2 separate regions of the Homo sapiens genome follow, and region 2 is linked to region 1. Evidence: fine-mapped expression QTL. Tissue or cell type: blood mononuclear cells. Region 1 holds a variant in brackets; the other region holds the start of a gene. All regions are shown on one strand. Distances are from middle to middle.

Evidence for each region. PIP is the estimated chance that this variant, and not a neighbour inherited with it, causes the effect.
Region 2: AQR starts here. The variant in region 1 is fine-mapped to the expression of AQR in blood mononuclear cells (TOPMed, PIP 0.98).

The regions. Positions count from the first base shown.
Region 1 is chr15:34,851,522-34,859,628 of GRCh38, reverse strand. It overlaps AQR (aquarius intron-binding spliceosomal factor), which reads left to right. Exons shown (of 35, transcript NM_014691.3): 35 at 2,523-7,847. The coding sequence ends at 2,837. Among named protein-coding and RNA genes, the nearest start is that of ACTC1, 60 kb to the right of the region's middle. The variant G/C (reference allele first, on the strand shown) is at 4,538.
Region 2 is chr15:34,965,297-34,973,389 of GRCh38, reverse strand. AQR (aquarius intron-binding spliceosomal factor) reads left to right here and starts at 3,648. Exons shown (of 35, transcript NM_014691.3): 1 at 3,648-3,851. The coding sequence starts at 3,777. RefSeq lists enhancers at 3,545-3,654, 3,705-3,854, 5,023-5,587.

The DNA of each region.
Region 1 (8,107 bases):
TAAATGGAAGCATACAGTATGTATTCTTATTTTTTCTGGCTACTATTGCTTATACAAGTCTTTGTACTTTATCTTGGGTAGATACCTAAGAGTGGAATGGCTGAATTTATGTTAAGGATGTGTTTAACTTTTTAAGAAGCTACCAACCTGTTTTTCAAAGTGGTTGAACCACTTTACACTCTCAGCAGCAGTGTGAGAGTTCTAGTTGCTACACATCCTCACCCTCACTTGATATGGTACGTCTTTTTAAAATTTTGGCAGTTCTAATAGATATACAGTGGTCTCAGTATGGTTTTGGTTTTCATTTCCCTAAGGACTGATGATGAGCATCTTTTCATGTGGTCATTTGCCATCTGTATATCTTTGGGGATGTGTCTGCTCAGGTTTCCTGCTCATTTTTTTATTAGGCTGTATATTTTATTAAGTTTTGAGAGGTTTTTATTTATTCTGGCTACAAGTCCTTTATCTGATATGTATTTTACAAATATTTTCTCCCATTCTGGCTTGTTTATTTATTTTGTAAGTGTCTTTCAAAGAGCAAAAGTTTTAAATTTTGATGAAGTTCAATGTATCAAAGTGTTCTTTTATGATTCATGCTTTTTATGTCCTAAAAATACATAGCCTAACTCAGAGGTATAAAGGTTTTTTCTAGAAGTTGCAGAGTTTTAGGTTGGATACTTAGGTATGATGCATTTTGAGTTAATTTTTATATGATACAGGTAGGACTGAGTTTTATTCATTTGTCTGTGGATATGCAGTTGTTTGAGCACCACTTCCCTAATAGGCGATTTTTTTCTTTGTTGACTTGCTTGTCATCTTAGTCAAAATATCAATTGACTATATATGTGAGAGTCTGGGCTTTCTATTCTGTTCCATTATTCTGTATATCCGTCCCTTTGCCATGACTGTACTACCTTGATTATAGTAGCTTTACAGTCAGTCTGGAAATTAGATAACATAAGTCCTTTAGCTTTGTTCTTCATTTTAGAAATTGTCTTAGCTATCCCAGTTCCTTTGCTTTTCTGTATACATTTTACAATCAGCAGGTCAGTTTCTACCCCCAAAAGCATGCTGCAGTTTTTAAAAGGATATTTTGAAGAGGAGGATTGTTTAGGATCTATTTGGGGAGATTAACATCTTCACATATTAAGTCTTCCTATCCATGAATAAGATCTCTCGTTTATTTAGATCTTCTTTAAATTCTCATCAGGATTTTGTAGTTTTCAACATACAAACCTTACACATATTTTGTTAACATTTTGCTAAGTATTTTTCTTTTTCGTTTTCTTTTTTTTTTTTTTTTTTTTTGCTGCTGTCGTGCACGGTACTTTTTAAAAATCTTAAAGGCCAGGCGCGGTGGCTTATGCCTGTAATCCTAGCACTTTGGGAGGCTGAGGTAGGTGGATCACCTGCGGTCAGGAGTTCGAGACCAGCCTGGCCAACATGGTGAAACCCCGTCTCTACTAAAAATACAAAAATTAGCCAGGCATGGTGGTACATGTCTGTAATCCCAGCTACTTGGGAGGCTGAGGCAGGAGAATCGCTTGAACCTGGGAGACGGAGGTTGCAGTGAGCCAAGATGGCACCACTGCACTCCAGCTTGGGCGACAGAGTGGGACTCTGTCTCAGTCAATCAATCAATCGATCAATCAATTCATTCATTCAATTTCCAGCATTGTAAGCAGAGTCCCTGATGAGAAAGTCACTAGACTGCCATGGGGCAAAGGGCAAGCTAAGCATATAGAGTTGCTCCAGTTTTCTGGTTGAACGGAACAGAAACCTTGTTCCTTGCTGCTCCCTTCTCCCATGGCTTTGCCTTAAGGCCAGGCTCCTCTCTGCCTCTCACAGGGCTCTTTTTCTTTTCTTTTTCTTTTTCTTGAGACAGAATCTCTCTCTGTCACCCAGGCTGGAGTGCAGTGACACAATCTCAACTCACTGCAACCTCCAACTCACAGGGTCAAGTGATTCTCCTGCCTCAGCATCCTGAGTAGATGGGATTACAGGCTCCTGCCACCACGCTCAGCTAATTTTTGTGTTTTTTAGTAGAGATGGGGTTTCACCATGTTGGCCAGGCTAGTCTCGAACTCCTGGCCTCAAGTGATCCGCCTGCCTTGGCCTCCCAAAGTGCCGGGAATGCCACCATGAGCCACCGCACCCAGCTCACAGGGCTCTTTGATTAAAGTTGACCCTTTCTTGAGTTAGTTTTATAATCAGTCCTGATCAGTCACTGTTTTTTGCAGAAATGTTGACAGCAAAGTATGTTGCTTAAAAATCTAATAGCTTTTCATGGTTGTTTTCCTCTCTGAAGATTTTATATGTATTTTGATTATCAGTATATGACATCTGTGTAGGCATATTCCTTGGTGTTAGCAGAACCTAGACCATTGTCATCAGAGGTGTTACATCTGGAGTATAAAATGGTCAGCACTGTTTTGGAGAACTCTAGAATGGTAATGTGAGAGCTTAGCTTTATAAGCTGTTTTTCATATTGGTATTGTCTTTGTTTTTTTTTTTTTAATTAGACTTTATTACAACTACCACCTGCTATGGTAGAAGAGGGTGAGGAAGTTCAAAATCAAGAAACAGAATTGGAAACAGAAGAAGAGGCCATGACTGTTCAAGCTGACATCATACCCAGTCCAACAGACACCAGCTGCCGTCAAGAAACTCCAGCCTTTCAAACTGACACCACCCCCAGTGAGACAGGAGCCACTTCCACTCCAGAAGCCATCCCTGCTTTATCTGAGACCACCCCTACTGTGGTAGGAGCTGTATCTGCACCGGCAGAAGCTAACACACCTCAGGATGCCACATCTGCCCCGGAAGAGACCAAGTAGCCAAACTGTAGTCCTTCTAAAGGAGGACATGGCAGTCAAAAAGTCTGAGTAAAGCTGTTTTTTGTATTTTATATTTGCTTCTGCCATTTTACTGTCACTAATTAATGTTTAGTTCTTATATTTGTTAACTGATTTCGGTGTCTTGAATATATTTTTTTAAATTATGTGTATGAACAATTCTAGTTTCATTTGTTCAATCAGAAGAGCAAATAACCATTCCTTTCATGTTTTGATCACTGAGTGTGTCTGTAATCATACCTACATTAAAATCATTTTCTATGAATATATAATATATACTTCACATTTTTAGTGAACTTCTCTAAAGAAGAGGACAGAATATACTGGACTTAACCACGAATACCCTTGAGTGTCCAAATTGGGAAGGAACTTGTTTCTTCTGTTATACTATCAAATGCTTAAATTCTGTTTCCTTTTTTCTTACCTTTGTTTGCTGTCTTTATGTAAAGATATTATTAGCAGTAAGATACAGGTTTCTTCAATCTATCAAAGTGGTTACATGCATTTCCTTCTCTCAAATCTTAGAATGCCTTAGAATCACCTAAGATGTCTGTTTATTCTTGAGGCACACCTCAGACTGAATGAGTCAGAATCTCAGGATTAGAGCCTAGGAATCTATATTTTAGGAGGTTCTCCACACCACTAATGTTTGGGTTGCTGGCAGAGTGGCATCAGCCAAGGCTGGTTAGGCTGAGCCAGGATTTGTCATCAGCTAAATAGGAGGACTCTGCCAAATCAATCTGGGCAAGAAGCAGGATCCTGAGTCTGGGCAATGAGAGTCAGAGAACTTAACTCCTGTGTGCAGGGTAGAATTTTCCCATGGCAGAAATTCTGAGTTTTCTGCCTTATTTTTCTTGGGATAACCAGCCACAAGGAGACCTTCAGGTAAAATGTGGTTCAAATATGGGAAGGCAGAGGTACCTGGGACCTTGCTACTCAAGTATGATTTGTGAACCAACAGCATCAACATCGTATTGAAGTTTGTTATTTATAGAAATGCAGAAGTTTGGGCTCTGCTCCAAACCTATTAAATCTAAATCTACATTGCAACAAAGTCCCCAGGTGATTCACAGGCACTTTGTAGTTTGAGAAGCACTGTACTAAGATTACTGTGTTGTCTTCACATGAATGAGGCTATAATGTAGAATTACCAGTGAATGTGACTAATGTTTTCTGACAAGGGACCTCTGCTTACAAGGTCCCTGGGCATGGTGCCCAGAACTGGAAAAAAAAAAAAAAAAAAGGAAATGTTTATATGTATGTGTAGAGGGGAAAATTGCCCACTAGTTCTCTATTTCCCATTTTGATCATCTGCTAGAGTATCTAAAGGGGAGGGGAGCATTTACCCCAGAATGTCTCCTCTAGTGCATCCACCTATGGGCCTGGCCATGTCCAAGGAATCTTTGAAGAAACAAGCAAGAACTGCACACTACCATTGAAATCCTTCTGGTCCTGACATTTTGAAGGAATGATTGCTTCATAGGGAAATTAAACCCAGAAAGTCAAGTCAGTTATATTTTTGAGTGACTAGTGTTTGCTCAGCTCTACCAGGCTGTGTTGAATATGGTACAGACTCTCATTTTATGATGTATCCTACTGCATCAGGACATTTGTGTCAATGTCAGGTGATGAGGGGAAATGAAAGTGATGAGACGATGAGAGGAGTGAAATACCAAGGACGC[G/C]ATACTAGGAAACCCAGGTCTATTTGTTATCAGAGTAAGGATCAAGCCAGATAGCCTGTTATGTAATTTCTCCGATAAAAGATTTTGAAAGCAGGTGCTGTGGGCATCTGTATGGGGAATCGCACTCATAGAATTATTTTCATTTGTAAATATTTGGTATCAGGCCAAGCAAGGGAAAGAAGCTTTACTGTATTACCATCTTTCCTGGAAAAGATTGATTTTTCTCTCTCCCTTAGGGGATATGAGGTATGATACCTGCAACCAAAATAAGCTGGCTGTTAAGTGCTCTCTCCTTAACTATTGTCCAAGCAATGTACATCACTCTTGCCTAGATGAGTGACCATACTTTTTTCTTTGCTGCTTGGTTTTTCTATCACTAAAAAGCAAATTTAGGTGGAAGATGGATGGGTAAGTCCTTTGTCCTTGTCAAAAGAATTTAGAAAGGGTAAAGGTGGTGGGATTTGAATTCTTTTAAACGGTTTATTCATTGGAAAGGCAAGTGAGTGGCAGTTGACTGTAGAATCTTGGGAATTTTTGAAGGAATTTAAGAGCTGTACTTATTTTAAATAATGAGGAAACAATCAGAGAGACTTAACCAGGGTGGCAACTATGGAAGAGTGGGGGTAGAATCCAAGTCTACAGTTCTACGGCACTGCTTTGTTTATTTTTTCAATCAAGCACACATGAGGGATTGCTTAATAAATTCAAGAGTTTTCTATATAGTTTGGGATTACTACAGACACAGGTACTCTAGCCATGTGACTATTTCAGATTAGTGTTCCCATTGCTCTCCATCCTATTTTTCATATCTAAATGTGTCATGATTTTAGAATCTCTTTGTAAAGAAAACCAAAAAGAGCCATGCCCAAAAGAATGAGCATGAAATGAAGCAATTCAAGTATTTAGAATTTCTTCTTCTTTTTTTTTTTTTTTTTTCAAAATTCTGAGTTAAGAAAGTTCATTGCCAACAGTTGAGGATAAATAGCTCTATTGATTTAGGCAAATGAATGAGAAGATTTAAACATCATCAAGACTCCCAAAGTTGGTGTAATAAAAGTTGAGATGTTTTGCTAGATGCTGAGAGAAAAGGCATAAATAGGCCATTTGTGCTCCTGTAAACAAATGAAATTTTGTAATGATCAAGAGACAGCAAGATATTATAAAACACACTTTGGACTCATCGAGACCTGGCTCAGAGTTGTACCTAATTTGCTTATCAGCATTTGGTTAGACCTTAGACAAATTTTATAACCTCTCTAAGCCCATTTTCTTTATCTGTAAATAAAGGAAAAAGATCTGTTTGGATTTGGGACAGGAGAGTTGTCTGTTTTATAGGGTAATGTTTATGAAAATAATTTATCACCTAGGTACTTAGTAAATACCAGTTTCTGTCTCTGTTTTTCTTCAAAGCTTTGTTGACAATGTAGGATATTGCCAACTAATCCTTTGACTTGAGTGCTTAGCCATGCCCCAATCCAGGCAGCATGAAGAATGATCAAGAAGGGGACACCTAGTGGCAGTTGACCTTTGAGGATCTATCTAGGATCAGGTTACTGATTTGGGACCTCTGAATCAGTACATCATAACATCGAGAGTGATCTCTGCCAAAATTAAAATTCTGTCAGAACAGTATAAGCAGAAGGAAGACATTAGGTCTTTCTGAAATATGGAGCTGATAACTTCTATCAGTTCTGAATTCTGTACTGTCCCACCCCCAAATCATCTATATTGTTGCATGTGCTTAGCTTTGTGCCTTGAATTGCTATTTCCTTTTTATCTTGCACTCAGATGGTATTTTTAGAGATGTTTCTTCAATCAAAACAAGATAAAGTTAAAAAAAAAAAAAAAACAGTGACCCTTTTGCATAAGCCAGAAGAGCAGTGCCTTGCTTCCTGTGAAAAATGCTTGGCAGTTAGCCTGTGTAATTATTTAGCAATCATGTTAATAGATGTTTAAGAATAATGGAACTGGAGCTGTACTGAGCCAAGGATGGAAATGAAGACATGTGAGACTATTTTTTCTTCATCCACCGATACTCTTCAGTTACAAGGATTTAATTTAAAAGGGTTTTAATTAAATGGAATCCAGAAGCTTTGGACGCTCCAGTTTTTCTTCTTAGAGACAAACCCTAGCTCAGTTTCCTGGAGCTTGACTCAGAATGCAGCATGGTACTCCGGACTGACAGTGTGCCAGCTTTATTCACTTATCTCTCTACCTTTTGGCTTGCGTTTATTTCAGGGCTGCCTGACATTTTGACCTTATGTACAAAGATGGCCGATACGATTATTTTTCATCATATATTACAGAAAATACTACTCTTGAAAAATACTCTGAGAAATATGTTCTATGGTCAGATAAGTTTGGGAAACAGTGAATTATTGTTCCTCCTTTGCAGAATCACAATGCACTGTTAGCTAATTAAAGACTCTCAGATGTCCCACTGGAAAGAATCATGTTTAGCTTTGTTTAACCTAGCATTTCCCAAACTTATTAGAGCATAAAACTTTGTTTTTGTTTTTTTTTAATAAGATAGGTAGCTATTTCCTTAGAACACAGTTTGGGAAACTTTTTGTTCATTTGTTTTAATAAGATACCTTAGGTAGCTATTTCCTTAGAACACGAGCCGGGTGCAGTGGCTCACGCCTGTAATCCCAGCACTTTGGGAGGCCCAGGCGGGCGGATCACCTGAGGTCAGGAGATCGAGATCATCCGGCCCAACATGGTGAAACCCCGTCTCTACTAAAAAGACAAAAATTAGCCAGCCATGGTGGCAGGCACCTGTAGTCCTAGCTACTGTGGAGGCTGAGGCAGGAGAATCACTTGAACCCGGGATGGGGAGGTTGCAGTGAGCTGAGATGGCGCCACTGTACTCCAGCCTGGGCGACGAGCAAAAACTCCTTCAAAAAAAAAAAAAAAACATAACTTAGGTAGCTATTTCCTTGGGAACCAATATCTTTACATTGGCTAGAACTGTGAATCGCCCTTTAAAGATAAAGCCCCAAAATACATTTTTTTTCCCTACAGGTAACCAGAGGGTGAAGTAACAGCCGAAGAGGAAACCAGAAGTGAAGTGATTTGTACAAAATGTCGTAGTGTAATTTATTGAGTGTCATGTGGTATTAATCGCAACATCCTGAAAATGCAAATGAATAAAAGTTTGGTCAATGTACCATGACATTCCTTCATGTGAGCCTCCTAAGAAAAGGTCACTGAGCATTCTCTGTTTACATTTTAATTTTAGACTCCAGAATTTCACACTAAGTTTTTCTTCTCATTTCTTATGCAGTAAAAGAAGAGTTTGTATTTCCAATGTGTCTGGCTTTCTGTTCTTTAGTTTTTGTTTCCTTAAAAAGTTTAAACTCCAAAAAGAGAAAAGGATTACTTAGCATAACCAATAGAGGTGGTCTGGAAATAATAAAAGAAAATGAAGGCAAATATAAAACATGAAGACAGTTTCCTCGCATAAGAATATTTAACACACAAGGACCCCAGCAGTTACTTTGCATTAAGCATACTGAATTCTTTCTTGATCTCCAGAATAACTGTCCCCACAATCCTCTTCCCCTCTAC
Region 2 (8,093 bases), 110 kb before region 1:
TACACAATAACATAGGGGGAAAAAGGACTTCACATTTAATCTCCATTCCTACAGGCTTTTGCTTTCACGTTCACACTGTCTATTTTTGTTTTTATTTTTGTTGTTGTTGTTGTTGTTGTTGTTGTTTTGAGATGGAGTTTCACTCTTGTTGCCCAGGCTGGAGTGCAATGGTGCAATCTCTGCTCACTGCAACCTCCGCCTTCTGGGTTCAAGTGATTCTCCTGCCTCAGCCTCCCGAGTAGCTGGGATTACAGGTGCACACCACCATGCCCAGCAAGTTTTTGTATTTTTAGTAGAGATGGGGTTTCACCATGTTGGCCAGGCTGGTCTTGAACTCCTGACCTCAAGATGATCCACCTGCCTCGGCCTCCCAAAGTGCTGGGATTACAGGCGTGAGCCACTGCGCCTGGCCCACACTGTTTATTTTTTTACTGTTTTTTTAAATTTTTATTTTTTTGAGATGGAGTCTTGCTCTGTTGCCCAGGCTGGAGTGCAGTGGCCTGATCTCAGCTCACCGCAACCTCCGCCTCCCCAGTTCGAGTGATTCTCCCGCCTCAGACTTCCGAGCAGCTGGGACTACAGGCGCCCGCCACCACACCCGCCTAATTTTTTGTATTTTTAGTAGAGACAGGATTGTTAGCCAGGATGGTCTCAGTCTCCTGACCTTGTGATCTGCCCGCCTTGGCCTCCCAAAGTGCTGGGATTACAGGCGTGAGCCACTGCACCCGGCCTACACTGTTTATTTTTGAACATGTCATACATATTACAAAATTCTAAAGTTACAAAAAGGTATAAAATATGAAATAACTTTTCTCCCCTTCCTGTTGTCCCCTCCCCACAGTTCCTTCTTCTTGGAAACAATAGTGTTATCAGTTTCTTGCATGTGTTCATCCAGGGAGAGTTTAACTAGAGACACATGTTTAATTTACGTATGGATTTGGGAATGGTAGGGGTGTGCATTGAAACTCAGTAGTAAGAAACCAAGTTATTCAATTTAAAAAAGGGCAAAAAATATGAATAGAGGCTTCCCCAAAGAAGATATATGAATAGCAAATAAGCACATGAAGAGATGCTCAATTAGTCATTAGGGAAATGTAAATGAAAGTCACAACGAAATATATCACACACCTATTAAAATGACTAAAATTAGGGGCTGGGCGCCCCCGGTGGCTCACGCCTGTAATCCCAGCACTTTGGGAGGCCGAGGCAGGTGGATCACTTGAGGTCAGGAGTTCGAGACCAGCCTGGCCAACATTGCGAAACCCCGTCTCTACTAAAAATACAAAAATTAGCTGGGTGTGGTGGCGTGTGCCTGTAATCCCAGCTACTCGGGTGGCTGAGACAGGAGAATTGCTTGAACTCGGGAGGTGGAGGTTGCAGTGTGCTGGGATCGGGCCACTGCACTCCAACCTGGGCGACAGAGTGAGACTCCATCTCAAAATGAATATATAAATAAATAAATAAAGACTAAAATTAAAAGATTGTCCATATTCACATAGAGGGGAACAATGCACACTGGGGCCTTCCAGAGGGTTGGGTGGGTGGAGGGAGAGGATCAGAAAAAATAACTAATGTATACTGGGCTTAATACCTGAGTGATGAAATAATTTGTACAATGAACCCCTATGACACACCTTTACCTATGTAACAAACCTGCCCATCCTGCACATGTGCCCTTGAACTTAAAAATTTAAAAAAAATTGTCCATATTAAGTGTTGACGAGGTGGAGAACAAACTAGAATTATATGCTCCTGATGTGAATGTAAAATAGTACTACTTTAGAAAGATGGCAGTTTCTAAAAACTTAAACATATACTTGCCGGGTGCAGTGGCTTATGCCTGTAATCCCAGCACTTTGGGAGGTCAAAGTGGGCAGATCACGAGCTTAGGAGTTCAAGACCAGCCTGACCAACATGGTGAAACCCCGTCTCTACTAAAAATACAAAAACTAGTCAGGTGTGATGGCGCGTTGCCTGTAATCCCAGCTACTCAGGAGCCTGAGGCAGGAGAATCTCTTGATCCCAGGAGGCAGAGGTTGCAGTGATCCGAGATCACGCCATTGCACTCCAGCCCGGGCGACAGAGCAAGACTCCATCTCAAACAAACAACAAACAAACAAACACACCTATCGTATAACCCAAATATTTCACTCCTAAGTATTTAAGAGCAAAGGAAGTATATGTCCACATGAAGACTTATACACAAATGCTCATAGTGGCTTTATTTGTAATAACTGAGAACTTGGAACAACTCAAATGTCTATCAGCAGATGAATAGTTTATCAAACTGTGGTATATCAGTAAAATGGAACGAATGTTAAGCAATAAAAAAGGAATGAACTACTGATACATGCAACAACATGAATCCATCTCAAAATCATTTCGTTGAGTGAAAGAAGGCATGCACTGTATTATTTCATTTATATAAAATTCCATGAAAAGCAAACTATAGTGACAGAAAGCAGATCAGTGGTTGCCTGAAAAGTGGGTGGGAACAGTGAAAGGCACAGATAGCAAAAGTTCACGAGGAAACTTTTAGAGGCTTTGATATGCTCATTATGATTTTGGCAATAGTTTCACAAATGTATGTTCATGTCAAAACGCATCAAATTTTACAACCTAAATATGTGTGGGTTATTGTATGTGAATTATTTTTATTATTATTTTATTTTTATTTTTTGAGGCTAGTCTCGCTCTGTCACCAAGCTGGAGTGCAATGGCGCAATCTCGGCTCACTGCAACCTCCGCCTCCCAGCTTCAAGTGATTATTCTCCTGAATCCGAGTAGCTGGAACTACAGGCGCGCGCCACCACGCCCGGCTAAATTTTGTTTTTTAGTAGAGATGGGTTTTCACCATGTTAGCCAGGCTGGTCTCAAACTCCTGACCTCAGGCAATCGGCCAGCTTCAGCCTCCCAAAACGCTGGGATTACAGGCGTGACTACCGCGCCTGGCTGGGTTATTGTATGTCAATTTTTACCTCCATAAAACTGTTAAGGCCTGTAATCCCTGCACTTTGGGACCCTGAGGCAGGCGGATTACCTAAAGTTGGTGAGTTCGAGACCAGCCTGACCAATACGGAGAAACCCTGTGTCTACTAAAAATACAAAAATTAGCTGTGCATGGTGGCGCATGCCTGTAATCCCAACAACACGGGAGGCTGAGGCAGGAGAATCGCTTGAACCCGGGAGGCAGAGGTTGCTGTGAGCCGAGATTGCACCATTGCATTGCAGCCTGGGCAACAAGAGCGAAACTCCGTCTCAAAAAAAACAAAACTAAACTAAAACACTGTTAAGGGCAGTTAAAACCCAGCCCATATTCCCAGGCTGTTTTTTTTGTTTTGTTTTGTTTTTTCTTTAGGGTTGAAAAAAAACTAAATCCCCATTCACCGCACACGGCACTCTTCACTAACCACGAGAAACCCCACCCAACACCATCCACCGGGTCCCTCCCTTGCCCTCCTAATCCCGCCAGCGAGGTGTCTTCTCTCTGCCGCCCGCTAGAGGGCGTGTACAGAGGAGGTCAAAGCTCTTGGCTCGCTAGCTCAGCCCCAACGCCTGCATGAACTTCCGGCTACACGCCATTCCGCTTCCCGAGGAACGCTTGGGCTGTTGTACGGGTTCCCTACGGGACTCTGAAGGCTGAGGATATCCGGCCCGGAGCGTTTGTGCGGCGCGGAGTTAAGCGCCCCGGCAGTAACTTAAGGGAAGTGGACCAGGGTTGCCGCTGCCCAGAGCGGTCCTTTAGTTTCCACTGGAGTGGAGGGAAGAGTGCTGCCATGGCAGCCCCTGCGCAGCCCAAGAAGATCGTGGCCCCTACGGTGTCCCAAATCAATGCGGAGTTCGTGACCCAGGTGAGCTCGGGCGAGTCTGGTGTGTGTGAGTGGGTATGGACGTCGTGGCCCCGAGGCCTGGTGGTGGGGTTTTTTTTCAGGATTTAGGAGTCCGGAGGAGGCATTCGTTTGTTAATTGATTCACACACGTCTTTTTACTGAGTATCAGCTCCGTGCCGGCCACTATGCTAGGTGCTGGGCATACCGTGGTGAAAGAAGCTGCCCTGCCCTGGGGAGTTCATGGCCCAAGGAAGACAGACGCATGAAAATAAAACTACTGTATGAGTTTTGCTGTGTTGGAGTTTGTCTCAGGAGCAATGGATTCAGAGAGGAGGGAACACCCCAGTCTATCTGAGACTGGCAAGTAGGCTTCGCAGCAGAGTGATGCTGGACTGCCTCTTCAAGTAGGAGTAGGCTTTTTCCTGGTCCTTAGAGTGTCCTGAGTTTTTGAGCAGCGATGAGAAACTGACAAGACACCTCCAAATAGACCTATCTAAAAACAGAGTAATTCTGTAGTTTGAGAGCGTTCATTTAGAATCTGTTTACTATCTTGCATTGTGAGCCACAGTTGGCTTTGGATAGGGAACCACAGTCCTGTGGTTGTCAGCATCATTCCTCATTCTTATTATTTATTTGTGAATTGCATAAGAGTGTAAGTAGTTCAATGTAGAAGTTATCATGCCCACCTGCTTCTTTATTCTTTATTCCTTGTCTCAACAGATTTGCCAGGGCAGAAGCCTAGGGAGTGATTTTGAATCCTCCCTTTCCCTTAGTCCCTACATTTCTACATTCTAAATATCTTTTGAATCTATCTGGTGTTCTACATCTCTGTCACCCTAAGCTTGGTTGCCATTGTTTTCTGCCTGGACCAAGGTATCGTAATCTGTTATATTGTCCTTCCTCTTGCTCTGCTCTAGCCCATTCTTCATGTTGCTTTCCGAGTGATTTCATACAAGTGCAAATCTCATCATATCACTTGCCTTCTTAAAATTTCTGCCTTCCGGCCGGGCGCAGGGGCTCACGCCTGTAATCCCAGCACTTTGGGAGGCCGAGGCGGGCGGATCACGAGGTCAGGAGATCGAGACCATCCTGGCTAACACGGTGAAACCCCGTCTCTACTAAAAATAAAAAGAAAAAAAATTAGCCGGGCATGGTGGCAGGTGCCTTTGGTCCCAGCTACTCGGGAGGCTGAGGCAGGAGAATGGCGTGAACCCGGGAGGCGGAGCTTGCAGTGAGCCGAGATCGCGCCACTGCACTCCAGCCTGGGCAACAGTGCGAGACTCCGTCTCAAAAAAAAAAAAAAATCTCTTCCTTCCTTTCCTTCCTTTTCTTCTTTCAAGATAGGGTCTCACTATGTTGGCTGGGCTCCAGTGAGCCTTCCACCTCAGCCTCCCTTGTAGCTAGGACTACAGGGACTACACTAAGGCTGGCTGTCCTTAAAATCTTCAGCCGGGCGCGATGGCTCATGCCTGTAATCCCAGCACTTTGGGAGGCCGTGGCAGGTCGATCACCTGAGGTCGGGAGTTCGAGACCAGCCTGACCAACATGGAGAAACCCTGTCTCTACTAAAAATACAAAAGTAGGCAGGCTTGGTGGTGCATGCCTGTAATCCCAGCTACTCGGGAGGCTGAGGCAGGAGAATTGCTTGAACCCGGGAGGCGGAGGTTGCAATGAGCCAAGATCGCACCATTGCACTCCAGCCTGGGCAACAAGAGCAAAACTCCGTCTAAAAACGAAGCAAAAAAAAAGAAATCTTTAAAGAATTCTAATTACCCTTAGGTTAACGGCTGAAATCCTTCATAGTGTTGTGTGATTTGACCTGTGCTTATATCTTCAGTTTCCTCTTTTTCCTCTTCCTTTCTAACTCTGTGCCTTAGCTGTACAGAACTTCGTTTATTTGAATGTGCCATGCTATCTTTCATCTCCTGGCTTTTCAACATTGTTCCTCTGCTAGGAATCCTCATTTTTTTTCTCCCCACCTTCCTTTATTCATTCTCAGCCTTCTACACTACTTTAGAGAGGCTTTTCCTGACAACTTAAACGAGATTAGAGGTCTCTTTCCCCATATACCTGCATTTTTGCAGTAGAAGTCATTTATTAGTTTACTTCTGTCATGGAACTCACATTTTAGAGGGAAGAACCAGACAGATGAACGGTATAGTTTCATACACTGATAAATGCTATGAGGAAAATGAAACAGGGCTGTGACAGACTGGTTTGAGGTGTATGAAAGACAGTCAGGAAAGTTCTCTCCGAGGTGACATTTGAGCTAACACCTGAATGCAAAGAAGGAGCCAGTTTTGAGAAGAGCAAGGAAATAGCAAGTACACACACCTTAAGGTGTGAATGTAAAGAAGGCCAGGGTGGGCCGGGTGCGGTGGCTTGTGGCTCGCAGTGGGATTACACCTGTAATCCCAGCACTTTGGGAGGCTGAGGTGGACGGATCACCTGAGGTCGGGAGTTCGAGACCAGCCTGGCCAATATGGAGAAACCCTGTCTCTACTAAAAATACAAAATTAGCCGGACGTGGTGGTGCATGCCTGTAATCCCAGCTACTCAGGAGGCTGAGGCAGGAGAATCACTTGAACCCAGGAGGCAGAGGTTGCAGTGAGCTGAGATCACGCCATTGTACTTCAGCCTGGGCAACAAGAGCGAACTCCATCTCAAAAAAAAAAAAAAAAAAAAAAAAAGGCCAGGGTGGCCTTGAAGGCAAAGATTACCTTTCTTTGCACTCTAGAAGAGCCTAAACAGTATCTGGCAAATATTAGACATTAATGTTTGTTCCCATGGCCCAAGATTGCTGAGAACCTTCCTTTCTCACACTACATCTTAATGATCTGGCATATTTGTTCATTAATTCACTTATGTATCCATTTGACAAATAGTCATCACACAGTGTGTGCCTAGTACAATACCAGGTGCTGGGAGTACATGGGGAATAAAACAGACATGTTCTCACAATCTAACACACAGTCTGTGGAAGGAGACTTTAAGAGACTTAAAGAACTCACTGTAGTTTAATGTGAGAAATGCCAGATTGGGGTATAAGGGAAGTGCTTTGAGAAAAGAGCATGAAATTATTACTTTGTTGAAGGAAAGAATTTCCAAGAAGAATTTTCTCATTGAGAAAGTATCATTTGAGTTGGACTTTGAAATGCAGAGAGGAAAGTGGGGGAATTGGTTTTCTAGGTAGAGGGGACATCTTGGGCTTAGGTGTTTTCTTCTTCTTTCTTTTTAATTTAATTTCTGAGCATCTGGCATACCTAGCCAGAAAAGGTACTTTTAAAATTATTTATTGAATGAATGAGATCAAGAGGTTAAAATTTAGTTTTAAGGAGATTGGAGATCTGAACTTTGTGACCTCACTTTTTTATACCATTATATTTTTATTTCCTTTTTTGTCTTTCAGTAAGGTTTACTTTAAACAGTTTATACTGTCATAGCTGTACTAAGTAGAGAATGGAAAGTTTTTATTTTACATGAGACTAGAGAGTTTGAGGGAGGGCAATGTGTATATACTGTGAGATCGTGATATTTGAGACATTACACGTTAGACCCCAAGGGAAAGGAGAAACTCAGAGAAGAGACATGATAGATGCTTAATAAATGTTTGCTAATCTTTAATCAAGTACAGATGTACAGTAAGCAGTTTAGATCAGAGATAGGATATACATTTTTATTTGTAATTTCCTGAGTCCATCATAACAGGTTAGACTCAATTCTCTTAATGGTATGATGTAAGAAGAAGATGACTGAATTTATGATGCCCATAGGGAGCAGAATGAGGAAATGAGGACACCACAGAATAACTGGGGGTGAGGTGAAGATTTTCTATTGAGTTGGAGAGTGATTGGTAATTTGGGAAGGTGTTATTTATTTATTTATTTTAGAGACGGAGTCTTGCTCTGTCGCCCAGGCTGGAGTGCAGTGGCTTGGTGTTGGCTCACTGCAATCTCCACCTCCCAGGTTCAAGCAATTCTCCTGCCTCAGCCTCCCAAGTAGCTGGAATTATAGGTGCACACCACCAAGCCTGGCTAATTTTTGTGTTTTTGGTAGAGATGGGGTTTCACGATGTTGGCCAGGCTGGTCTTGAACTCCTGACCTCAGGTGATCCGCCTGCCTCGGCCTCCCAAAGTTCTGAGATTACAGGCATGAGCCACCATGCCTGGCCGGAAGGTGTCATTTAAGTAGGAAGTTACTGTAATATTTTTAGAGGCTATTCCTCAGGGCCAGTGTCCTAACTGCCTGGGAGGCTCTTTAAGT